Linked DNA regions of Homo sapiens: region 1 is linked to region 2. Evidence: fine-mapped expression QTL. A gene starts in region 2. The other region holds a variant in brackets. All regions are shown on one strand. Distances are from middle to middle.

Region 1 (17,182 bases), 24 kb after region 2:
CACGGAGAATGCCCAGATGCTGACATGTGCCAGACAACACATATTTACACCTGATAGGCCACACACATGCAACATGCAAACACACGTGACGGGTAACACCTGTGACAGACACTACATGACAACACACATGCACACATGATGGGAAACACATATCACAGGCTGTGCGACGGGCAACACAGCGCAGGCAGTGCGACGGGCCCTGGCAGCAAGCTCAGCAGGCTGGCTCTTTTCGAGCAGGAGAAGAGCTCATTGTAAGAGATGACACTGGCGTAGGTGGCACCTCCCCTGTCTCCATCACCCCCGGATAAGGTGACTGGGTGGAGGTTCTGGACCCCTGAGTGGATAAGCAGGTTGTGTCATGGCCTCCGTGTCTGATTGCCACCCTCGCTCCCAAAGCAACTCTGTGATTTTGTCGATCTGCACTGTGGGGATTTTTCTTTTTCTTTCTCTTTTCTTTTCTTTTCTTTTTTTTTTTTTTTTTGCAACGGAGTTTCACTCTTGTTGCCCAGGCTGGAGTGCAATGGCATGATCTCAGCTCACTGCAACCTCCATCTCCTGGGTTCCAGCGATTCTCCTACCTCAGCTTCCCGAGTAGCGGGGATTACAGGCGCCCACCACCAAGCCAGGCAATTTTTTTTTTGTATTTTTAGTAGAGACGAAGTTTCACCATGTTGGCCAACCTGGTCTCAAACTCCTGACCTCAGGTGATCCACCTGCCTCGGCATCCCAAAGTGCTGGGATTATAGACGTGAGCCATCACGCCCAGCTGGGATTTTTCAATTATGTGATTCCAAGAATCTCCAGTCCAAGATTTTCCCTATCTTTAAGTTCTCAGTAGCAGGTTAGATAACCTGAGAAGTCTCCCTCTTCAAAACACCTAGAAATGCTGGGTAAGAAACAAATGTCCTTTTAACTATAGAGCTGAGGCCGGGCGTGGTGGCTCACGCCTGTAATTCCAGCACTTTGGGAGGCTGAGGCAGGCGGATCACCTGAGGCCAGGAGTTCAAGACCAGCCTGGCCAATGGTGAAACCCCATCTCTACTAAAAATACAAAAATCAGCCAGGAGTGGTGGCAGGCGCTTGTAATCTCAGCTACTTAGGAGGCTGAAGCAGGAGAATCGCTTAAACCCGGAAGGCAGAAGTTGCAGTGAGCCAAGATCACGCCATTACACTCTAGCCTGGGCAAAAGAGTGAAACTCCATCTCAAAAAATATATAAATAAAATAAAATAAATATATAGCTGAGTTCTTCAGAAAATAAGTTAAGTCCCCTAAGGCCAGAAGTGAAGAGGAGAGTGAGAACCAAGGTGGGGACAGAGGAGCTGGTGCTGCAACTGCCTGAGGGCAGGGCTGGGTTGAGCGTTGGTATCCCTTACAAGGCAGGGGGTTAGGGTTACAGTCAAGCATGATGAAGTTGGGGCCACAGAAATGCAACACCTTTAGAGAAAGGGACAGAAACATTTCCACCCAGGGGAACAGAGAGAGGTGAGAAATTTTGAGCTTTAGGTGGTGAACAAGTTTCCCATGAGATCGTTGCGTTTTCAGGCCTCTCTTATGTAAATGTGGAACTCCTACAATAAAGTCATGCCACCTGTGTGGTCTAGGAATGCCAGAGTTGAGAAATTAACACTAAAAAGTTGCTTTGGGCCGGGAGTGGTGGCTCACGCCTGTAATCCCAGCACTTCAGGAGGCTGAGGCAGGTGAATCACCTGAGGTCAGGAGTTCGAGACCAGCCTGGCCAACATGGTGAAACCCCGTCTCCACTAAAAATACAAAAAATTAGCCAAGCCTCGTGTGCCTGTAATCCCAGCTACTCTGGAGGCTGAGGCAGGAGAATAGCTTGAACCTGGGAGGCAGAGGTTGCAGTGAGCTGAGACTGCGCCACTGCACTCCAGCCTGGGCAACAAGAGGGAAACTCTGTCTCAAAAATAAAAGTTGCCTTGGCTTAGTGGTACCCTGGGACCACTAAAGCCCCTCTGAAGCTCAGCTCACGATCCAAAATTACAGAACACACAGGAAACACATCACCGCGAGAAAAGGCAACAGACATAAAAAAGAGCAGGATTCGACACCCGCTCCAAATACCCCCAGCTAGGAGAGAGAAGCTGTCCAACAGGTATGTGAGATAGGCAGCATCTATAAGGGCTGCCAGCGATCTCCCACCCTTGACTCTTCACAACTTTGTGTAATTTCCATCCCTTGATTGTGGGCTGGACCTAGTGAGTTTCTTTTAACCAACTGAATTCTTATTTTACTATTTTATTTTATTTTATTTTATTTTATTTTATTTTATTTTATTTTATTTTATTTTATTTTACTTAGAGATAGAGTGGCACTGTGTTGTCCATGCTAGGCTGAAACTCCTGGCCTCAAGCAGTCTTCCTGCCTCGGCCTCCCAAAGTGCCAGGATTATAAAGCATGAGCCACTGTGCTCAGCAGCCTTCGCATTTATTTATTTTTGAGACTCGCTGTATCGCCTAGGCTGGAGTGCAAAGGCACAATCTCGGCTCACTGCAACCTCCACCTCCCAGGTTCAAGCGATTCTCCTGCCTCAGGCTTCCAAGTAGCTGAGATTACAGGCGCCTACCACCACGCCTGGCTAATTTTTGTATTTTTAGTAGAGACTGGGTTTCACCATGTTGGCCAGGCTGGTCTCGAACTCCTGGCCTCAGGTGATCTGCCCGCCTTGGCCTCCCAAAGTGCTGGGATTACAGGCGTGAGCCACTGAACCTGGCTAACCAACTGAATGCTAAACTGGCCTGAGAGATTCTCACTCCCTGGTGTCCACACCCCGCTAATGCCCTCCTGTGAGTGAATGTGATGGGCTACAGTACTTTTGAGCTAATCAAATGGGACGCTACCTAATGGACCTGAACCAGTCAGGCAAGTCTTTTAAAAGAAAGGGACATGGCAGAGAGGCGCTCTTCTGCAGGCTTGGAGTAGGGCAAGTGGCCATGGTGCCACCTACAAGGGGGCCCCTGGAAGCCGAGAGTGGTCCCCAATGGCAGCTTACAAGAAAACAGGGACCTCAGTGCCCCAACGTAGGGAACAGCCCCTCTCCCCCCCTGGCTCTTAGGACCCCCATCACAGGGGGGTGAGGCACCCCCTGCGATGCGGGGAGTAAGAGCTAGCCCCTCTTCCCCCCCTGGGTTTTAGGATCCGCGGTGGACTCACAGCCTGTTTACCTTATTTTGAGCAACACCATCTCCCCCTCTGGAGATTATGAACTGTTTCACAGATGGGTGTATACCCTCAGTGTACAGAGGGTGTACACCTTTCTGTATTGGGAGTAATATCATCCTCTTCCTCCATGAATATTAAGAAGAGTATCACAGGGGTGTTTCCACTCCCTCGGATATCGCGTGTCATATCCTCCTGTCCCACGTTGCAATTAGAAACAATATCAGTGGGGGCGTGTCCACCTTCTGTGATATTGAAAGTAATATCATCCTCTTCCCTCCAGGATCATGGGAACAATATCCCTGGGGGGTGTTCACTTTCTGCCATATATGTAGTCATATCACCCCCTCCGCCTTGGAATATTATGAAGGACCATCTCACACAGGGGTGTATACTTCCTGCGATATTGGGAGTAATATCAACCTCTCGGCCTCTGAATATTAGGAAGAATATCACAGGGTGGGTGTACACCTCCTGCTCTATTATGGGGAGTAATATCATCCTCTCCCTTTCAGGATATTAATAACAATTTCACAGGCTGGGTGAACACAGCCTGCGTTGCTGGAATTATTATCACCCTCTCCCCCTCGGGATACTAGGAACAATATCACAGAAGAGGTGTACACTCCCTGCGATATTGGGAGTAATATCATACGCTTCTTCCGTGAATATTAGGAGCAATATCACCGGGTGGCTGTACATTGATTGCTATGTTGGCAGTCATGTCATACTCTACAAGCTGGGTATTAGGATCGGTGTCACAGGGTGAGTGTACACCTACTGTGATATGAAAACTAATATCATGCTCTCCATCCCTGGATATTAGGAACATTATCACAAGTAGATGTACACCCCCTGCGGTATTAGCAGTAATAATATTCTGAATTATTAAACATCAGTCTTATTAATAATTATCAATGGTAATATTAATTAACAGTATAACGTTATTAATCATTAATGATTATTTTTGAGATATGATTATGCATGATTAAAATTAATTATTAATATTAATGTCACTTTTAATATTAGTTATTAATCTTAATATTAATTATTGTTTTATTACCAACATCACTTATGATTGAAGTAACATTAATTAGTGATATCATTATTTTATTATTAATACTGAAATTGCTATTAATTATAAATAGTAACCGTTAATATTTTTCATCCGTACTGTTTTACTGTCTCTACAGTAATTATTAATATTGATGATTACTATTAATTGTTATTATATTTGTAATATTAATAATCAATAGAACTGTTCCCGATATCCGTGGGGGGAGGATATTACTCCCAATATCGCAGAAAGTGTACACCCCTCTATGATGTGACTCCTAATAGCCAGGGGGTAGAGGATGACATTATTGAAAATAGCGCAGTGGGCGTACATCCCTTCGGTCATCTTGTTCCTAATATCCTGGGTGGGAGCGGATGATATGACTCCCAATATCGCAGGGGGCGGAGACCTCCCCCGAGATACTGTCCCTAACATCCAAAGGTGGAGATGATGATATTTCTTCCAATTTCGCCGGGGGTGCACACCACCCTTGTGATATTGATCCTAATATCCAGGCGGCGAGAGGATGATATTAGTCTGAATATTGCAGGATGTGTACACTCCCTAGGGATATTGTTCCTAATATCCAGGGACGGAGAGGATGATATCACTCCCAATATAGCCGCGGGTGTACACCCCTTGTGTGACATTGCTCCTAAAAGGCAGCGGGGGAGAGGAAGATATTATAGCCAATATCGCAGGGGGTGTACACCCCCTTGTAACATTCTTCCTTCTATCCTGGGAGGGAGAGGAAGATACTAGCGGCAATGTCGCAGGAGCTGTACACACCCACTGTGATACTGTTCCGAATATCCGGAGGGGGAGAAAATGATGTTACTTCCAATATCGCAGGGGGTGTACATCCTCCTGTGATATTGTTTCTTATATTCAGGGGGAGAGGATGATATTACTCCCAATATCGCAGGGGTTGTACACACCTCCTGGGATACGGGGAGTAAGAGCCAGCCACTCTCTCCCCCGGCTCTTAGGAGACCCATCGCAGGGGGGTGAGGCCCCCCACCCGGGGTACGGGGAGTAAGAGCCAGCCCCTATCCCCCGCTGGCTCTTAGGACCCCCATCGCAAGGGGGTGAGGCCCCCGTGATGCGGGGAGTCATATCACCCCCCTCTGGATATGACGATTCACTTCGCAGCGGGGCGGGCGCCCCCCGCGATGCGGGGAGTCACATCACCCCCCCCTCCCCGCCTGGATATGACGATCCACATCGCAGGGGGGCGGGCGCCCCCCGCGATGCGGGGAGTCATATCACCCCCCTCTCCCCCCCGGATATGACGATCCACGGTGGTCACACAGTGTGTTCACGTTATTGTCAGTAATATCTTCTCCGCCTCTGGAAATTACTAACTATGTCACAGACGGGTGCACATCCTCTGCGCTCTTTGGAGTAATAGCATCCTCTTTCCCCTTGATATTAAGAACAATATCACAGGAGTGTTTTTACCCCAGGGGCATTCCGTGTAGTATCATCCTCTCCCACGTTGAAATTAGGAACAATATCACTGGGGGCGTGTCCACCCTGTGCGATATTGAAAGTAACATCATCCTCTTCTGTCCTGGATCATGGGCACCATATCACTGGGGTCGTGTACACTTTCTGCAGTATTGGGAGTAAGATCATCCTCTCCGCTTGGAATATTAAGGACCATATTACAGCGGGGCTGTACACACCGTGTGCTATGAAGAAGAGTATTATCCTCCCCTGCCCTGCACATTGGAAAAAATATCACAGAGTGGGTGTGCACCTCCTGCGATGGGGGGGTGATATCATCTTCTCTTCTTCTGGATAATAGCAACAATAGTACACGGGTTTGTACACTTTCTGTGATATTGGGAGTAATATCAACCTCTCCACCTTTGAATATTAAGAACAATATCACAGACAGGATGTACACCCCCTGCGATACTGGGAGTCATATCAGCCTCTCCTCTCCGTGGATATTAGGAATAATATCCCAGGATGGGTGTACGCCTCCTGCTGTATGGGGAGTCATATCGTCCTCTCACTTCCTGGCTGCTAGGAACAATATCAGAGGGTGGGTGTACACAGCCTGCGATATTGCGAGTAATATCACCCTCTCCCCTCCGGATATTAGGAACAATGTCACAGAAGGGGTGTACACTTCCTGAGATACTGGGAGTAATAGCATTCTCTTCTTCCGGGAATATTAGGAGGAATATCACCGGGTGGATGCACACCCACTGCTATCTTGGGAGTAACGTCATACGCCACCCCCTGGAGATGATATTCGGATAAATATCACCGGGTGGGTGTACTCCTACTGCGATATTGAAAGTCATATCATGCTCTCTCCCTCCCTGGACATTAGGAACAATATCACAGGTGGGTGTACACCCACTGAGGTATTAGGGATAATATTCGTATTAATTCTTCCTCATTTATTATTAACATGAATATGTATTACTAATATTAATATTAAGAAATCATTGCTAAAAAAGTGTTCAGATTATTAAAATTAATGTTAATTATTAGGAGTTAATATGACAGTTTTCTAATGAATAAGATCAATATCACTAAGACCAGGCGTCATTAATCATTAACATTCATCATTTGTTGTTATTGTGAGTATAGCTCTTTAATATGAATTATCATTATTATAGGTATTGATTTTAAGAATTATATGATCAGTTATTAATATTGATAATTATCAGTATCAATTAATAATTGATATTATTAATTGCGGTAAGTAACATTGCGCCATTCCACCCCTCCCTTGGCAGCTCGTTTACGACCCAAAACGGGGATCCAAATGCCCCTGAGAGAGCAGCGGTATACTGGGAGAGAGGAGGATGGTCACGTGGTGGAGAGGCGTGTTTTTGTGTAAAAGCCCTTCACCTCTGCCGACCTTCTCAACTGGGAAAACAATACCCCGTCCTAGAGCGAAAAGCCGCAAGCCCTAATAGATTTGCTCCAAACTGTTATCCAGACCCACAACCCCACCTGGGCTGATCGCCACCGGTTGCTCATGTTCCTCTTTAAGAGAGGTGAAAGGCGAAAGGCGGAGAGGGCTCCACGCAGCAACTAAGTGGCTAGAGGAACATGCACCAGCTGATTATCAAAACCCCCAAGAGTATGGAAGGACCTAGTTACCAGGAACCCACCCCCAGTTGGACCCACATGAAAGAGAGGATATGCAAAGGCTAAACCGAGACAGGGAAGCTCTCTTGGAAGGATTCAAGAGGGGAGCTCAGAAGGCCACAAATATTAATAAGGTCTCTGAAGTCATTCAGGGAAAAGAAGAAAGTCCAGCACAATTCTACCAGAGACTGTGTGAGGCCTATGGTATGTATACTCCCCTTGATCCCGATAACCCTGAAAATCAGCGCATGATTCAAATGGCTTTAGTCCGTCAAAGTGCGGAAGACGTTAGAAGAAAACTGCAGAAGCAGGCTGGGCTTGCAGGGAGGAATACATCACATTGATGAGAAATAGCTAAGCAGGTGTTTGTAAACAGGGATACAGTAAGCCACGAGGGAAAGCGCAAAGAGAATGGAGATCAGGCCCGGCAAAACGCCGACCTGTTTGTTAGCTGCAGCAATCAGAGCTGTCCCCCCAAAGAAGCAAGGGAAGGGGAGCCCTGGGAAAGAAACTCAGCTTGGCTGTCAGAGTTTGCAGCGTAACCAGAGTGCTTATTGTAAAGAAATAAGACATTGGAAGAACAAATGCCCTGAGCTCAAAAGAAAACAAGGTGACTCAGAGCAGGAGGCCCCGGACAAGGAGGAAGGGGCCCGGCTCAACCTGGCAAAAGGATTATTGGACTGAGGGAGACCAGGCTCAAGTGTCTCCAAAGAGCCTCTGGTTAGAATGAGAGTCGGGGGTAGAGACATTGACTTTCTTGTGGATAGCGGTGCTGAACATTCGCTAGTAACCGCTCCGGTCGCCCGTTATCCAGAAAGACCCTTGACATCACCGGAGCCATGGGGGTTTCAGCAAAGCAAGCTTTCTGCTTGCCTGGGACTTGCACTGTAGGAGGACATCAAGTGATTCATCAGTTTTTGTACATGCCTGACTGTCCCTTGCCCTTGTTGGGAAGGGACTTGCTTAGCAAGCTGAGAGCTGCTCTCTCTTTGACAGAACACAGCTCTTTGCTGCTAAAGTTACCCGCCACGGGAGTCATTATGACCTTATGGTCCCCCGAGAGGAGGAATGGAGACTTTTGTGAACTGAACCGGGCCAAGAGAGAAGACCAGCTCTGGCTAAGCAGAGGCCAAGAGTACGGGCAGAAGACAACCCTCCAGGGTTGGCTAGTTAAGACTGGGGCCCAGCCACTTAGGCAAAAACAGGACCTGGTCCCCAGAGAAGCTCTTCAAGGTATCCAGGTCCATCTTAAGCACCTAAGAACTTTTGGTATGATAGTTCCTTGTCAGTCTCCACAGAACACTCCCCTCCTGCCTGTTCCCAAGCCATGGACCAAGGATTACAGGC[T/C]GGGACAGGATTTGCGCTTGTTTAGTCAAGCTACCCTGACTTTACATCCAACAGTACCTAGCCCGTCCATGTTGTTGGGGTTGCTGCCAGCTGAGGACAGCTGGTTCACCTGCTTGGACCTGAGAGACGCTTTCTTTTCTATCAGATTAGCCCCTGAGAGGCAGAAGCTGTTTGCCTTTCAGTGGGAAGATCCGGAGTCAGGTGTCACTACTCAGTACACTTGGACCGGGCTTCCCCAAGGGTTCAAGAACTCCCCCACCATCTTTGGGGAGGCGTTGGCTTGAGACCTCCAGAAGTTTCCCACCAGAGACCTAGGCTGCGCATTGCTCCAGTAGGTTGATGAGCTTTTGCTGGGACACCTCATGGCAGTCGGGTGCACCAAGGGAACAGATTGCCCTACGCCGACACCTGGAGGACTGTGGGTGTAAGGTGTCCAAGAAAAAAGCTCAGATCTGCTGACAGCAGGTATGTTCCTTGGGATTTAGTATCCGACAGGGGGAACGCAGCCCGGGATCAGAAAGAAAGCCGGTCATTTGCAATCTAGCAGAGCCTAAGAGCAGAAGGCAGGTGAGAGAATTCTTAGGAGCTGTGGGGTTTTGTAGACTGCGGATCCCAAACTTTGCAGTATTAGCCAAGACTTTGTATAAGGTCACAAAGGGGGCGGGGATGGGAAATTTTTGAATGGGGATCCCAACAACAGCAAGCCTTTCGTGAGTTAAAGGAGAAACTTATGTCAGCCCCAGCCCTGGGGCTACCTGATCTGACAAAGTCTTTTACATCCTATGTGTCAGAGAGAGAGAAAAGATGGCAGCCGGACTTTGAACCCAAACTGTGGGGCCTTGGCCGAGGCCGGTGGCCTACCTCTCTAAACAACTAGATGGGGTCTCTAAAGGATGGCCCCTGTGTTGGAGGGCCTTGGCAGCAACTGCCCTGCTAGTACAAGAAGCAAAGAAGCTGACTCTTGGGCAGAACCTGAACAGAAAGGCCCCCCATGCTGTGGTGACTTTAATGAATATTAAAGGACATCATTGGCTAATGAATGCCAGACTCACCAAGTACCAAAGTTTGCTCTGTGAAAATCCCCGTGTAACCATTGAAGTTTGTAACACCCTGCCACCTTGCTCCCGCTATCAGAGAGCCCCGTCGAGCATGATTGTGTAGAAGTGTTGGACTCAGTTGACTCTAGCAGACCTGACTTCTGGGACCAGCCTTGGGCATCAGTAGACTGGGAACTATACGTGGATGGGAGCAGCTTCTTCAACCCCCAAGGAGAGAGAGGTGCAGGGTATGCAGTGATAACCCTGGACACTGTTGTTGAAGCCAGATCGTTGCCCCAGGCCACTTCAGCCCAGAAAGCTGAACTCATTGCTTTCATTTGGGCCTTAGAGCTCAGTGAGGGTGAGACTGTCAACATTTACACTGATTCTCGGTATGTCTTTTGAACCCTTCACATGCATGGAGCGTGATAGAAAGAAAAGGGCCTATTAAACTCTGGGGTAAAAGACAGAAAATATCAACCAGAAATCTTCTATGTATTAGAAGTAGTATGGAAACCCCACAAGGTGGCAGTTATGCATTGCAGGGGACACCAGCGAGCTTCCACCTTGGTGGGCTTGGGGAATTCCCGCGCTGACTCATAGGCTGGAAAAGCAGCATCTGCCCGTTTCCAGGCATCAGTCACAGCTCCTCTGCTCCCTCAAGCACCTGATCTTGGACCTGCTTATTCTAAAGAAGAAAAGGACTTTGTCCAGGTAGAGGGAAGGACAAGTGATGGAGGAAGGATGGAGAGTAGCTGCGCCACAGCTGCTAGGAGCTGCAGTTGTACTGGCTGTGCAAGAAACCACCTATCGAGGTCAGGAGTCACTGGAAAAGTTGTTAGGCCGGTATTTCTACATCTCGCGTTTCTCAGCCCTTGCCAAAACGGTGAGGCAGCGGTGTGTTACCTGCCGACAGCATAAAGCGAGGCAAGGTCCAGCCGTTCCACCCGGCATACAAGCTTATGGAGCAGCCCCCTTAGAAGATCTCCAGGTAGACTTCACAGAGATGCCAAAGTGTGGAGGTAACAAGTATTTACTAGTTCTTGGCCGTACCTACTCTGGGTGGGTGGAGGCTTATCCAACACAACTGAGAAAGCTCGTGAAGTAACCCGTGTGCTTCTTCGAGATCTGATTCGTAGATTGGGACTGCCCTTCCGGATCGGCTCAGATAACGGGCCTGCGTTTGTGGCTGACTTGCTACAGAAGACGGCAAAGGAATTGGGGATCACACGGAAATTGCCTGCTGCCTCCCGGCCTCAGAGTTCCGGAAAGGTGGAGGGGATGAATCGGACTATCAAAATAGTATTATTGTCTTCCGCGATGGATATGTAAAACAACACCACGAGGGGCGTCAAACCACCTGCTACATTTGAGGGAATGTTATCCTCTCCCCCCCTCCCCCGGCCCCGGATATTAGAGGCAATAACACAGGGGTAGTGTACACCCACTGCTTTATTGGGAGTAATGCCATCCTCTGCCTTCTTGGATATTAGGAACAATATCACAGTGTGCGTGTACGCCTGTCGTGAAATTCAATGGTATGTCATCTTGTGCCTCCCTGGATATGACGAACAGTATCACAGGGGATGTACAACTTCTGAGATATCGGGAGTGATCTCATCCTCTTCCCTCTGGAAGTTAGGGACAATATCACAGGGGTAGTGTACACCTTCTGGGACTTTGGGACTAATATCCTCCCACCCCCTGGATATTAAAAACCATGTCACAAGGGGCGTGTACACACACTTCGATATTGGTATGAATACCATCCTCTCTCTCTTTGGATATTCGGTGCCATATTTCAGGTGGGGTTTACACCACCTGCAATATTAGAAGTCATGTTATTTTCTCCCCCTCCTGGATATTAGAAAGAGTATCACAGGGGGGTGTGAACAACCCTTGCGATATTTGGAGTCATATCATCGTCTCCCCTCAAGAATATTGAGAACAGTATCTTAGGGGTGGGGGTTGTATACCCCCTTTCATATTCGATATCATCCTCTTCCCCCCTGGATATTAGGAACAATATCAAGAAGGGATGTACAGACCCTGCGACATTTGCTGTCATGTAATTGTCTCTCCCCTAGATATTAGGAAAAATGTCACTGGGGATGTGAACACCCCTGCGATATTGGGAGTAGTATCATCCTCTCTCCCCTTGCATGTTGGGAACAATACCACAGGTGGGGTGTACTGCCTCTGCGATATTGGGAGTACAATTATCCTCTCTTCCCCTGGATACTAGGAAGGGTATCAGAGGGGGAGGGTGTACATTCCCTGTGATATTCAATGTCACCTTATCTTCTCCCTCCCAGGGTATTCAGAACAATAGGACAGGAGGGGTGTACACCCCCTGCGATATTGGGAGTCATATCATCCTCTCTCCCTGTGGATATTAGGAAGAGTATCACAGGGCTGTGGAAACACCCTGCGGTACTGGGAGTAATATCATCCTCTCTCCCTCTGGATATAAGGAAGATTTTCACAGGGGTGTGTACACCCCCTGCGATATTGGGAGTAATATCATCCTCTCCACCAAGGAAATGACAAACAAGGTCATGGGGGGTGAACTCCCCCTGAGATATTGGGAGTCATGTCATCCTCCCCAAACCTGGATGTTAGCAACGAGATCACAGAGGGGGTGTACACACCCTGCGATATTGGAAGTAATATGATCCTCTCCCCACCTGGATATGGGGAAAGATATCACAGAGCGGGTATACATTTCCTACGCTGTTGGGAGTAATATCATTCTTTTCCTTTCTGGATATTAGGAAGAATATCACAAGGGTGCTGTACAATTATTTCAATATTGGGAGTACTATCATCTTCTATTTTCCTGGATATTGGGCCCAATAACACAAAAAGGTGTACAACCCCTGCTATATTGGGAATAATAGCATACTCTCCTTCCCTGGATGTTAGAAAACAATATCATCAGGTCTGAACACCCCTGCGATAATGGGAGTAATATTGACTCTTTCACAGGCCATTTGGTACAATATCACAGGGGGTGTTTACAGACAGGGGTGGTGTACACCCCCTGTGATATTGGGAGTAACATCATTCTCTCCACCTACTGACAATAAGAACAATATCCCGGAGGGAGGTGGTACACCCCCAGTGATATTGGGAATAATGTCATCCTCTCCTTCCCTGGATATTAGGAACAATATCACAACGGGGTGTACACCTTCCGTGATATTGGAAGCAATATCATCCTCTCCCCCGCTGGATATTAGAAAAAAAATCACTCACGGTGTACACCCACTGTGATATGAGGAATAATATCTTCCTAGAGTATTATGAATAATTTCACAGTCTGCACACACATGGTGTACACTCACTGTGATATTAGGAGTAATATCTACCTAGTAGAAAACAAATAACATCGCAGGGTGCACACCCATTTTGATATTAGCTGTAATATTTTTCTAAGTTGTTACAAATAAGATCACAGGGTGTACAAACATGGTGTACACTCACTGTGATATCAGGAGTCGTATCTCTGTAATATATTATGAATAATATCACAGGGTGTACACCCACTGTATTATTGGGAGTAATATCTCTGTAGGATATTACAATTAAGATCACAGGGTGTACAGCCACTGTGATATTAGGAGAAATATCTTTCTAGGATATTACAAATAATATCACAGGGTGTACGCCGACTCTGCTGTCAGGTGCAATATCTCCCTAGGCTGTCAAAAATCCTATCACAGGGTTTCCAATCTCTGCCTTCCAGGTTCTAAGGGATTCTCCTGCTTCAGCCTCCCGAGTAGCTAGGGTTACCCGCCACCACACCCGGCTAATGTTTTTTTATTTTCACTGGAGACGGGGTTTCACCACGTTGGCCAGGCTGGTCTGGAACTCCTGACCTCAGGTGATCCATCAGCCTCGGCTACCCAAAGTGCTGGGATTACAGGTGTGAGCCATGGTGCTGGGCCAAGAGTTATAGATTCAATTCATTTGGAAACACAGCTCCCATCTTTGAGCGTGCATGTACTTTTATGAAGAAGTGATGTCAGAAAACCGAAGGATGATAATAAATATGAAAAGTAACAGGCATGTGAAAATCTTTCGATTGAGAACTATAAGGTTCGATGTCGTTTTCAGATAATGGGGTCCTAGCTCTTGTGTCGTCCTTTTACATATTCTACATCAATGGAAGTTGTAGCACGGGGTCAGAATAAAGTAGAGTGCATTTCACGGCTTCTTAATTTCTTTCAATTAGACTGAGATCTTTTTCTTCAAGAGAAAGGACATTGTCATTGCATTGTATTTTTTCTGAAAAGAGTAGGCCGTATTTTACTGAGATCACGGATTTGTTATATATAACGTTTTGGTCTCTGATATTCTTCAGTGGATTTTCTCTAAAGTAGTATGTACAGAAAGCCTTGTATAGCAAAAAAGTAAATCACGTAATAATTCTGAGATTTTTTGGAATTGTCACAACTGAGAAACATTGCTGGCGGTGTATGGTCCGCAAGTGTGAAGATGTTCCTTGTGAATTGCTTGCATCCAGCATTAAGGGCTGGTTTTTATCTGCTATTTTTCCAATCCTCTTTCCTTCTCAAGGTGTCCAAGACACACAGAGCCACGGAATCTCACAGGTGTCTGAGAATTCCTCCTCCTGGGACTCTCAGAGGACCCAGAACTGCAGCCTATCCTCGCTTTGCTGTCCCTGTCCCTGTCCATGTATCTGGTCACGGTGCTGAGGAACCTGCTCAGCATCCTGGCTGTCTGCTCTGACTCCCCCCTCCACACCCCCAGGTACTTCTTCCTCTCCAACCTGTGCTGGGCTGACATCGGTTTCACCTCCGCCACGGTTCCCAAGATGATTGTGGACATGCAGTCGCATAGCAGAGTCACGTCTCATGCGGGCTGTCTGACGCAGATGTCTTTCTTGGTCCTTTTTGCATGTATAGAAGGCATGCTCCTGACTGTGATGGCCTATGACTGCTTTGTAGCCATCTGTCGCCCTCTGCACTACCCAGTCATCGTGAATCCTCACCTCTGTGTCTTCGTTTTGGTGTCCTTTTTCCTTAGCCTGTTGGATTCCCAGCTGCACAGTTGGATTGTGTTACAATTCACCATCGTCTAGAATTTGGAAATCTCTAATTTTGTCTGTGACCCCTCTCAACTTCTCAAACTTGCCTGTTCTGACAGCGTCATCAATAGCATATTCATATATTTCGATAGTACTATGTTTGGTTTTCTTCCCATTTCAGGGATCCTATGGTCTTACTATAAAATCATCCCCTCCATTCTAAGGATTTCATCGTCAGATGGGAAGTATAAAGCCTTCTCCACCTGTGGCTCTCACCTAGCCGTTGTTTGCTGATTTTATGGAACAGGCATTGGCATGTACCTGACTTCAGCTGTGTCACAACCCCCCAGGAATGGTGTGGTGGCATCAGTGATGTATGCTGTGGTCACCCCCATGCTGAACCTTTTCATCTACAGCCTGAGAAACAGGAACATACAAAGTGCCCTGTGGAGGCTGCACAGCACAACAGTCGAATCTCATGATTTGTTCCATCCTTTCTCTTGTGTGGGTGAGAAAGGGCAACCACATTAAATCTCTACATCTGCAAATCCTGCCCCTTAGTCACATTCTTTCTGTGGCTTGATGGCTTTTATTCCTTTCCACATTTCCTTTGTGAATATTGCTTTCTTCGCTATGCCTTTCACTGGAATGGGTGAGGATTCTGGGACCCTTTGTTTAGCAGAAACCTCATGACAGAATCCTCTATACCTAGGTGGCCTCTTTTAGTTTCTGAGCAATAACCCTGTCATCCAGGTGGAATCACAACCATCTTTTTATATACACGAAGTCCTCACTTCCTTTTGGAATTCCCTGAAAACTGACTTTATGGAAACAATGTACAGGAGGTCCTCCAACACCATCAGTTGTTCAAAGATGTGTAGTTATACTGTTGATGAAAAATAAGTGGTTTCACTATACATAATTTTGCTTAAAGGTGAAGTTTCCAAGAGACTTTCAAAGATGTTAAGTGAGGACATGCTGTACATCAAATTCATATCCTCTTCCACAGTCCACGTGGAATATCTTTATAAACTGCTTCTAGAGAATCTATTTAGGCAGGTTCTGTGTAGAGATCCATGTCGCCATTCCTCAATCTTGGCTTTGAGTCAAATCACCTGGGGAGCTTACAAATGATGAGGCCTGGGTCTCAATACCTGAGATTCTGATTTCCTTGCACCTGTGTGAGTATGTGGATTTTTTTTTTTTTCTTTTAAAGCACCAGAGGTGGTTCCAATGACGAAGTTTTTAGAGGCATCAAGCTCCAATGAGTAAGAACAGAAATTAATTGTAATATGATTTCTTCAAATATTATCTTCAAATGCATTGTCCATCAACACCATACAAATGTTTATTATGTTGTTGTTTCTTACCATTTCGCATTTTCTATTTCTTTCTTTTCCTTATTTTTTGAGTCAGATTTTCACTCTTGTTGCCCAGGCTGGAGTTCAATGGCACGGTCTCGGCTCACTGCAGCCTCTGCCTCCCGTATTCGAGCAATTCTCCTGTCTCAGCCTTCCAAGTACCTGGGATTACAGGCATGCGCTACCATGCCTGGCTAATTTTTTTTTTTTTTTATATTGTTAATAGAGACAGTGTTTCTCCATTTTGGTCAGGCTGGTCTTGAACTCCCGACCTCAGGTGATCCGCCCGCTTCCGCCTCCCAAAGTGCTGGGATTACAGGCATGAGCGACTGCGCCCAGCCACCACTTAGCATTTACATTTTACATTTGTTGAAGTTGTAGATTTATACACACATTGATTGCTGCTTTGTTATACACTTGCATATACATAAGATAGGAAATAGAAAAGAATAAAATGGACACAGTATCCCTGAGGTTTCACATTCTGAGACATTTTAAAAATATTTGCTCTTCAGAAATTTGTTTCAATGAAGAAACTGTGGTATACACACCCAGTGAAGTATTATTCAGCCGAAAAAGGAAGAAACTCCTCTCCGCTGCAGACAAAATGGATGAGATTGCAGGTCTGTATATTAAATGAAAGAAGCCAGGCACAGAATGACAAATATTTCATGTCCTCACTTCTATGTAAGAAGAAAAAAGGAAACCTTGGCCAGGTGTTGTGGCTCAGGCCTGTAATCCCAGCACTCTAGGAGGCCGAGTCGCACGGATCACTTGAGTCCAGGAGTTCGAGATCAGCTTGGCCAACATGGTGAAACCCTGTCTCTACGGAAAACACAAACAATGAGCCGGGCGTGGTGACGCGTGCCTGTAGTCTCAGCTACTCAGAGGGCTGAGGCCCAAGAAGCGCTTGAACTTGGGAGGTGGAGCTTGCAGTGAGCCCTGATTGTGCCTGTGTACTCCAACCTGGGTAACAGAAAGAGACTCCATCACACACCTACACACAAAAGGAATCTCAGGAAGGTGGAAAG
Region 2 (9,554 bases):
GCCCCATTCATAGAGCCTGTCTTTCTGCAGATCTAACATTTTACAAACGAGGAAGTGGGGGCAGAGAGGGGGTGGGATGTGAACATGGGGCGTGTGTGTGGCAGAGCTTCTTGCTCCAGAGCTGGGGCTGCACCCGTTTCGGATGTCCCCTCTGCCTCCCAGGAGGAGTGCCTGCCTCTCTGCTTAGGACCGTGGTCATGATGCCACGTGTCGCCTTGGTGGTTCCTGTAGTCCCGATCTTCCTCAAGTTCGGCACAGGCAGCTGTGCCTAAGCCTGTCCCTGCCTGCCCCCAGCCCGCCCCGGATACACCTGTCAGAGCCAGCGTGCTGTGGGGATGATGTGCAAGCTGCTGTGGGTGTGGACAGGCAGGGGACAGGGTGACAGGTGTGGAGGAAGAGCCTCCTCTATGCCCCTTCCTGGGCCTGCCGCTGCTACCATCTCCCTGGTGCCCTGGGCCTCCGTAGCTCCCGGCCCCGGGGCCTCTGGGCCAACGTGGCACCTGGGAGGTGCTCATCATGGCCCCCCCCACCCGCCAGCTCCCTGCCTACCTGGGAGGGCGGTGAGGTCTTCTGGACCATGCCCACACCGGTGGCCCGTGATTAGATAGTTAGGGTGGGGGTGAAGGACTGCAGAGCCCCTGTCCTCTGTGTGGGATGGAGCCCCCAGCCACTGCCAGTCACGTGGCTCAGCATGTGACAGCCCAGCCCTGCCATTCTCTGGAGCTCAGCCAGATTGAGCGGGTGCCAGGCAGGGCTGGGCAGGGGCTGAGCCTGTAGGTCTCAGCTGGGAGTGAGGCCCAGAGAGGGCAGCCACTGGTCTAAGGCCACACAGCAAATCAGGGACCCATCTTGGCGGGTACTGGCAGGTGGGAGGGGTGTTTCAGGATCCCGAGGGTCCCCTCCCTGGCCAGGGAGCTGTTGAAGAATTTCCCCCAACTCACAGGGGCCGAACTTGTCATGAATGCAGGAGCAACCTGGGAGGAGGCCCCCGAAGAGGCCTGTCCTCCCGGGACAGAACTCCTAGCCTTCCCTGGGAGTGAGGCTCCCCCCAAGGGAGGCCACACACCTCCCAGGAGGGCTGGGCCCTCCCCACTCTGGGTTGGGTGCCCCTCACTACTCCTCAAAGCTCCAGAGGCTCAGTAGGGCCTGGGAGTCCCATCTTTGTTGAGGAGCCCAGGGTAAATGGGGAGCCCTCTGGGTAGGGCACCAGGAGGACTCACTTTTGGAGCCAGCTCTGGGGTGAGGTCTGCCAAGGCCCAGGCCAGCCAGGGGGAGTGGGTGGAGGGGTTGCTCAGGGCTCCGGGCCAGACAGCTGCGGCCCCGCCTGCCCTGCCTCCTCCTTGCTGGGCTGACGCTTCGCCTCTTTGGGCCTCAGTGTTCCCATGTGAGAATGGGGCTGACTACAGTCCCGGGGGCATCTGTGGGTGAATGAGAGGGTTCGGCAGGCATGGATCTCAGCACCTGGCATGGAGGGCGTTAAGTGTGAGGTCTGGGCTCAAATCCTGGTCCTGTCACTTACCTGTGTGACCTAGGTTAGTGTCTTAACCCCCCGTGCCTCTGCCTTCCCATCTGTAAAATGGGACATAAGTGATTGTGAGGCTGAAACAAGTTATTCCATGCACGTGGGCCCGGAACTGTGACCATTCCAAGTGCCCGGCCCCCTCTGGAAGGGTCTGAGAGCTACCTTCCAGACTCTAGGACAGGAGTGTGGGCAGGGCATGAGCATGGCATCAGGTGGAATCATTCATCCATTCATAATTCATTCATTCATTCCCTCACTTCTCAGAAACACGCCCCTGAGCCTGGCTCACAGGGCCTCAGACCTGCCCAAGAGCATCTCACTGCCTCATCTGCCCACGAGTGACCTTGAAAAGAAACGTCCCCTCACTGGGCCTCAGTTTCCCCAGCTGTAAAATGGGGGCTGACTCTGCCTGCCTCACATGGCTACTGCGAGGGTGAAACGAGAGCCGACCTGAAGGCACCGACAGGGCACCTGGTTCTCAGTAGGCGCTCAGAGCATGTGAATGTCCTCCTGCCCCTCTCCTTGCCCTCCTGAGGAAGTGGCTGCCCCAGGCCTTGGCCCTGAGGCCCTGGCCCTGCCTCCCACCCCCTCCCTGGCAGTCTTGAAGGCTGGACCCACCCTGGCTCCTTGAAGAGGCAAAGTTAGAGGCTGTAGGGGCCCAGGGCCCAGGACACAGTCAGAACTCACGGGCAACGGTGAATGCGGGTCACTTGTTCATTTACGCACTCAACAAACCTTTACTGAGCACCTACTGTGTGCAGACACTTCACACAATTTTCACAATTCCCAGACATTATTGACCATGCTTTCCAGCTGGGCCACACAGTGACAAGGACTCATGGGGATCCACAACCAGCCTGGCCTGGCTCCCCGGCCCACGGTGCTTCCAAGGTGCCTGGAGCCCTCGCACAGGAATGGGCTGGAGTCTTCAGCTCTGGGTGAGCCCTTTGCCACCAACTCTCAGGAGCCTCAAGTCTCAGTGGAAAGCAGCAGCCACCTGGGCATTTGCTGTGCCAGGCACTGGGCAGAGCCTTTGGCACACCCCAACCTGGGGACCTCCCACCATCCTGTGAGCCAGACTCAGTGATCATCATCCCCATTGGCTTTAATGTTTAAAATATTGTGGAATCACATCCATGCCAGGGAAGTGGTGTGAAGGGAATCACGTGGGCTGCCCAGCACGCTCCTGTGTCAGTGCAATGCGGGGCAACAATATTCCAAGAGGTTGTTTCAGGGAGTTCCAGTTGAGAGCAATATTTATTCTCTTCTGCTTGCTTTTCTGCAAGGAACATCGATTATTTTCATAATGAGAACTGAAAGTAAAGGCTTATTATAGAGAAAAGCATTGGCAAACAGTGAGCACGGGGGGATCTGGCCACCCCTTCCTGGGGATGTGACTGTGCACTGTTGCAACCTGGATGGGTTGGTGGAGGTGCTGGCCCTGCTCAGATCTCTGTCCCGCAGGTCACCCTGGTGTGTTTATCTGGGCCACCCTATCAGCCTCTTAGATAGTCTCCAGGCTCCCCAAGAGCAGCTCCATAAACCACCTAAAAAAAAAAATCCTTTCTGGAGAGAGGAGGTGTATCAGTCAGGGTTTAGTGCCTCCAGGGCTGTTTTTTGTTTTTTTTGTTTTTTGTTTGTTTGTTTGTTTGAGAGGTCTCACTCTGTCACCCACGCTGGAATGCAGTGGCACAATCTCAGCTCACTGCAGCCTCATCCTCCTGGGCTCAAGCAATTCTCCCACCTCAGCCTCCTGAGTAGCTGGGGCTACAGGTGTCCACCATCACACCAGGCTAGTTTTTGTATTTTTTGTAGAGATGGGTTGGGGGGGGGGGTTTGTCTCACTTTGTTGAGGCTGGTCTTGAACTCCTGAGCTCAAGTGATCCTCCTTGGCCAGCCAAAGTGCTGGGATTGCAGGCGTGAGCCACAGCGCCCGACCCTCTCCAGGTGTTTTGAGTAGGAGACATTGAGTGCAGGGAATTGGTGGTACAGCACAGGTGATGGAAGAGCCCAGGATGGGCAACCATAGCAACCGCCACAACCCCCAGGCCCAGAGGAACAAGGGGAGGAAGAGATTGCACCAGGCCCCAGAAGTTTGGGGTCCCTCAGGGAAATTGAGAAGCTCGGGGGGCCCACTCCCAGCACTTTGGGGGCTAAGGCGGGTACATCACTTGAGGTCAGGAGTTCGAGACCAGCCTGGGCCAATATGGTGAAACCCCATCTCTACTAAAAATACAAAAATCAGCTGGGTGTAGGGGCACACGCCTGTAATTCCAGCTACTCACAAGGCTGAGTCAGGAGAATTGCACTTTCTCATCATACTGTGTAATGATGCTGGTGTCTGCCATCTGAGAACGGCCCCCGCCATAGCCATACTCTCCCACCTCCTCCCTGCCCCTGCGCCTCGGGCCCTGCCCTCTCTTCGGCTCCTTTCCTGTCTCCCACTTCCAGCCACCCACCTGCATGAATCCACCTGTCTGTTCCCCACATCTGCACTTGGGCATCGTCACCTGGAGAAAGTTCTACCTCCTGGAAGCCTGAAGCCACTGCAGATTCACGCCTCCCCCCACCTTCCCAGCAATCCTTGCGGGGTGGGAGGTGTTTGTCATCCAGTCACTCATGCACCCATCCAGTCACAAGTATTGATCACTCAGTAGGTGCCCAATGCCATCCTCTGCATTTGGGAGAGGATGTACCTAAAGAGCAGTGGGTGGAGGGGGGTGCACAGGGAGGGCATGGAAAACCAGAAGGGAAGTGAAGGGACTGCATTCTCTGCAGGGATGGTCTCTTGTTCTGAGAGCTGAGTGGGAAGGAAGCCACCTGGGAGGCGCAGCAGGAAGAGCATTCAAACCAGAAGGAACCCAGGGGAGAGAATCTGGATATTTTCAAAAGTGGCCCCGTGGCTCCAGCCAGGTCGGTGGTAGCCAGTGCTTTGGAGTGTCGGCCCCACCACAGGCTCCCGCTGCAGCCCGGGATCCAGTGCCCAGCAGGATGGGGGCAGGTGGCTCTGGGCCCCACTACATGGTTGTGGCAGGGTCCCCCATGTAGTTCAGTGGGGATCACAATCTCCACCTCCCAGGACCCACTCAAGCTCCCATTTGCACAGCCCAAACTGGAGCAGGATGGGGACATGGGAGGTGGGCTCTGGCTGTAGCGTCCGGTGGTGGGAGGTGGGGTCCAGGTGGTGACGCTACTGTCCCTGCAGTGCTCTTTGATGAGCTGTAACAGCAGGCTTGGAGGTGGGGCTGGGGACGACCCAGGCAACCCTGAGGGGAGCTTAAGGGAGCCAGGCAACCCTGGCACTTTTCCAAGGCTTTGCATTAACTCAATAGTTCCGCCATGGCCCCGGGGGTAGTGCCATGTATTTCTGTTTTACCGTCGAGGAAACGGAGGAAACCGAGGCACAAAGAAATGGAGTTAATTCCTAAAGTCACAGGGCCAGGAGGTGGCTGAGTGGGGATTCGAACTCACACCCCAGAGGGCACACACAGGCAGGCCCCTGCACACACGCGCGCGCGCGCGCGCACACACACATACACACACACGTGTCCTGGAGGAGGCGGCCCGCAGGGCGGGACAGGGCGGGGCGGGGGCAGGTCCCGGCCGCCGGGAGGAAGTGGCCGGGCGGTCGCAGGGACTCCGGGGCGACCGCCGCGAGTCCGCAGTAGTTCGGGCCATGGAGGCGGAGCCGCCGCTCTACCCGATGGCGGGGGCTGCGGGGCCGCAGGGCGACGAGGACCTGCTCGGGGTCCCGGACGGGCCCGAGGCCCCGGTGAGCGGGGACCCGGAGTGCGAGGCGCGGGCGTCCCCTGTGGGCCAGGGTCCCCCCGGCGGGGGCGGGGCGGGCCGGGGGGCGGCGGGCACCGGGGGACACGGGTTCGGGGCGCGATCGCGGGTGCGAGCGGCGTGCGTGGCTCGCAGCTGGACGAGCTGGTGGGCGCGTACCCCAACTACAACGAGGAGGAGGAGGAGCGCCGCTACTACCGCCGCAAGCGCCTGGGCGTGCTCAAGAACGTGCTGGCTGCCAGCGCCGGGGGCATGCTCACCTACGGCGTCTACCTGGGTAGGTGCCGCTCGGGGACCCGGGGCCGCCCCGCCCGCTCCCAGCCCGGCCCGGGAAACAGAAACCGCGGGCCGCCGCCTCCCGCCCGCTCTCACTTCCCCTCCGCTGCCCTCGCAGCTGCAGCCACGGCCCCCCGCGGCGGGGGTGGGGTTGGGGGGTCAAGTAGCGCAGCGTCCCCGGGTCCCAGCCAGAGCCTCGGTGTGGGTGGGGGACGGGGGTCCGGGCTCCCGGACAGACCTGCCACCGTCAGAATTGGAGGCCGGCGGAGCAAGGCGGGTGGGGGTCTGGGCTTAGCTGGCCAAGTGGCCGCGGGCTGGCAGAAGGCGTGGCGCAGCCCGGGAACCCCGCTGTCCTGAGGGGCGCTGTCAGCGGGAATGCCTTCGGTGATTGGAGCTCCCTGCGAGGCCTGCATGCCGTCTTCTGCTCGGTGGCGCCCAAAGCTAGGCTGCTCCCTGCACGCCGCTCTCTGTCCTGTCCCCAGGCCTCCTGCAGATGCAGCTGATCCTGCACTACGACGAGACCTACCGCGAGGTGAAGTATGGCAACATGGGGCTGCCCGACATCGACAGCAAAATGCTGATGGGCATCAACGTGACTCCCATCGCCGCCCTGCTCTACACACCTGTGCTCATCAGGTGGGCGCGGCTGCTCCTGTGGGATGCTGCGGTACTCCCATTTCGGAGGGGTACAGAGGCCGGCGGGCCAGGAGGTGTCCATCTGCCGGGGTGTTTGTGGGGCGAGGGAACAAGGGAGAGGTTTTTTTCTACCCGGAAGCCTGAGAGTGAAGGGGGTGAAACTCGGATTTGGGGAAGGAAACAGGAACTTTGCCTCAGGGCACATTTGGTTTCCAGCAACAGATTCACACGGGCTGAGCTCCCTCCCAGCTTGCCTGGGCCTCACGTGGCACCCTCCTCGTGGCCTCCTTGGAGGCCTCCCAGAGCCACTGTGGCCTTCAGGGTTGGGGCTGTAGAGTTAGGGGTTTCTGATCGGTCAGCAAAGTCCAGGCACCCATGCCTGGCCCAGTCGCTGTGACTGGTGCTGAGGGGGTGTTTCTCACAGACAGGCATGGCTGGGCAGGTGCCCCAGAGCTCTCCCCCAGATCTGAGCCCTGGAGGTATGTGGTTCAGCCTCCCCATCACCGGTCCACAGTGCCCTCCCTGATGGGACCTGGAGACCAGTGGACAAATTAGGTGAATTTGAGCTCCCTCATCTTTAAAACAAACAAACAAACAAAACAACAAGAGAAAACTCCATTTAAACAAAAATTTGAAAATTTAAAACATCTCCCGTTGCACAGGCAGGATTAGAATAACTGAAATCATAAAAAAGAAACCCCATCTAAGCCCTCCAGGAAATCGGCTACCCATGCTGTCCCACCAGCATGCATGGATTACATTCACATCCTTGTCCCCAGAGCACGTGTGTGGACGTGCCCGTGTGTGTGTGTGTGTGTGTGTGTGTGTGTGTGTGTATGCAAGCGGGCTATGTTTGCTTTTGCTTGCTTACTTTTTTTTTTTTGAGACAGATACTTGCTCTGTCACCTAGACTGCAGTGCAGTGGTGTGATCTCGGCTCACTGCAACCTCTGCCTCCCAGGCTCAAGCGATTCTCCTACTTCAGCACCCTGAGTAGCTGGGATTACAGGCGCCTGCCACCCGGTTAATTTTTGTACTTTTAGTAGAGATGGGGTTTCACTATGTTGACCAGGCTGGTCTTAAACTCCTGACCTCAAGTGATTCTCCTGCCTTGGCCTCCCAAAGTGCTGGGATTACAGGCATGAGCCACAGTGCCCAGAGCTTGCTTCCTTCTTTTCACTGAGCATATCTTAGCCTACTCTACAGCCTTCACAGTTACGACTTTGCAATGGTAGCATCTTCTGCAGATACGGTGGCACTGAACAGTGGCTTGGAATTGGACACTGCAGTTCCTTCTGTGCTTACATCTGTTTCCTTGTTTTTTTTTTTTAAATTATGTGTTTATTTATTTTATTATTATTATTATTTGAGACAGAGTCTCACTCTGTCACCCAGGTTAGAGTGCAGTGGCACGAACACAGCTCACTGCCTCCTCAACCCCCACACACTGGGCTCAAGCAATCCTCCCACCTCAGCCTCCCGAGTAGCTGGGCCTACAGGCGCACGCCATCACATCTGGCTGATTTTTAAAGTATTTGTAGCGATGGGGAGTTGCTATGTTGCTCAGGCCAGTCTCAAATTCACCCGCCCCAGCCCCACAAAGTGTTGGGATTACAGGTGTGAGCCACCACATCCAGCACTCCCCCAATTTTTTAAACAATTATTTTTCCTAGGATACATTTTCAACAATGTCTTTACTAGGTCCAAGCCATACAAAAGGCTTTATGGCTTTTGAAACCTATCACTTCTACTAATAGCAGTGAACTCTTGTCTCCTGTCTGCCCGACACTCTATTTTATTTATTTATTTTTATTTTTACTTTTTTTTTGAAATGGAGTCTCACTCTATCACCAGGCTGGAGTGCAATGGCACAATCTCGGCTCACTCCAACCTCTGCCTCCCAGGTTCAAGCGATTTTCCTGCCTCAGCCTCCTGAGTAGCTGGGATTACAGGCGCCCGCCACCACGCTCAGCTAATTTTTTGTATTTTTAGTAAAGACGGGGTTTCACCATGTTGGCCAGGCTGGTCTCAAACTTCTGACCTCAGGTGATCTGCCCACCTCCACCTCCTAAAGTGCTGGGATTACAGGCACGAGCCACCACGCCCGGCCGTGCTGGGCACTTTATAAGCGCAATTTCATTCCCAATAATTTGAGGAAGCTGCTCCAGTCTTAGACATGAAGAAACCATGGTGTTAAACAACTTGCCCAGGTCCCACAGGCAGTAACTGGCAGACTGAAGGCTTGAACCCCAGTAGAGGGACTCAAATCCACATGTTCACCCCCTGCCAAAACTACCAGGCTGCTTTCCCAAAGGGTTATGCCAGTGTGTGTGACCACTGGCTATATGTGCCACTTTTTTTTTGAGCAATCTTGCTGTTGCCCAGGCTGGAGTGCGGTGACGCGATCTCAGCTCACGGCAACCTCCACCTCCTGGGTTCAAGCGATTCTCCTGCCTCAGCCTCCCAAGTAGATGGGATTACAGGTGTGCACCACCACACCCGGCTAATTTTTGTATTTTTAGTAGAGGTGGGGTTTCACCATGTTGGCCAGGCTGGTCTCAAACTTCTGACCTCAGGTGATCTGCCCACCTCCACCTCCTAAAGTGCTGGAATTACAGATGTGAGCCACTGTGCCTGGCCTATATGTGCCACTTTCAAACCACATCCTCACCAGCAGTGAATGCACATTTTTACTGGCATTTTTACTTAAGGAGCATAAATACAGAAAACTTGAAGATACCAGTAGTGGTTTTTGGCCTGATCAGCCTCCATGGGTGGTTGAGCCCTCATCCTGTCACTCACCAAGCCCCTTCTATTGTCACTGTGTGACCTTTTCCCAGACCCAGAGAGGTGGAAACTTCCTGACTGACCACCATGGTTCATAAAAGCAATGGACTGGAGGCAGGGGTGCCGGGACTCTGGCTCTGCTGCTCCCAGCAGTGGGGCCTCTTCCTTTCTCTTCTCCCAGCCTGAGTCAAGCCCCTGGGCCCTACAGACACAGTGCATGAGCTTGGGAGGAGAAGGGGGAATGGGAGAATCAGAGAGCCCAGAACACGCATGAGGGCTGGTTACACCCATGGGTCACTCTCCATCCTCACAGTGGTGATGAGAGGCCTGTGGTTTGGGCTCCGTGCCCATATTACAGCTGGGAAAACTGAGGCACAGTAGCTTGCCTGAGGCCACTCAGCAAGTCTGTGTATCTGATATTCCATCTCAGTGCCCTCGACTCTCTCTACCTCACAAAGCCCTGTGAGCTGGGACCTGCGGTTGTGGCCCCGTTTGGCTTCAGGCCACAGTGGTCCAGCAGGCCTGTGGTGCCAGCATCTCTCCCACTG

Direction of the effects. Alleles are on the strand shown, and positions count from the first base shown. SD is a standard deviation of normalised expression in the study named.
In carriers of allele T in region 1, the expression in esophagus muscle of the gene that starts at base 5,145 in region 2 tends to be higher than with C alone (small effect, 0.19 SD a copy in GTEx).

Evidence for each region. PIP is the estimated chance that this variant, and not a neighbour inherited with it, causes the effect. A credible set is the group of variants that fine-mapping cannot tell apart.
Region 1: its variant is the best candidate, but not a certain one, in a credible set for the expression of UNC93B1 in esophagus muscle (GTEx, PIP 0.67).

The regions. Positions count from the first base shown.
Region 1 is chr11:67,972,350-67,989,531 of GRCh38, reverse strand. LOC124902697 (a long non-coding RNA gene) reads left to right here and starts at 10,475. Exons shown (of 2, transcript XR_007062743.1): 1 at 10,475-10,759; 2 at 10,864-11,466. It also overlaps the pseudogene OR7E1P. RefSeq lists an enhancer at 16,967-17,182. The variant T/C (reference allele first, on the strand shown) is at 8,701.
Region 2 is chr11:67,999,688-68,009,241 of GRCh38, reverse strand. UNC93B1 (unc-93B1 regulator of TLR signaling) reads left to right here and starts at 5,145. Exons shown (of 11, transcript NM_030930.4): 1 at 5,145-5,294; 2 at 5,444-5,585; 3 at 6,067-6,220. The coding sequence starts at 5,199. It also overlaps a transcript of ALDH3B1 not described here. RefSeq lists enhancers at 4,102-4,644, 4,645-5,188, 6,093-6,142, 6,243-6,292, 6,393-6,592 and silencers at 5,023-5,322, 5,383-5,792.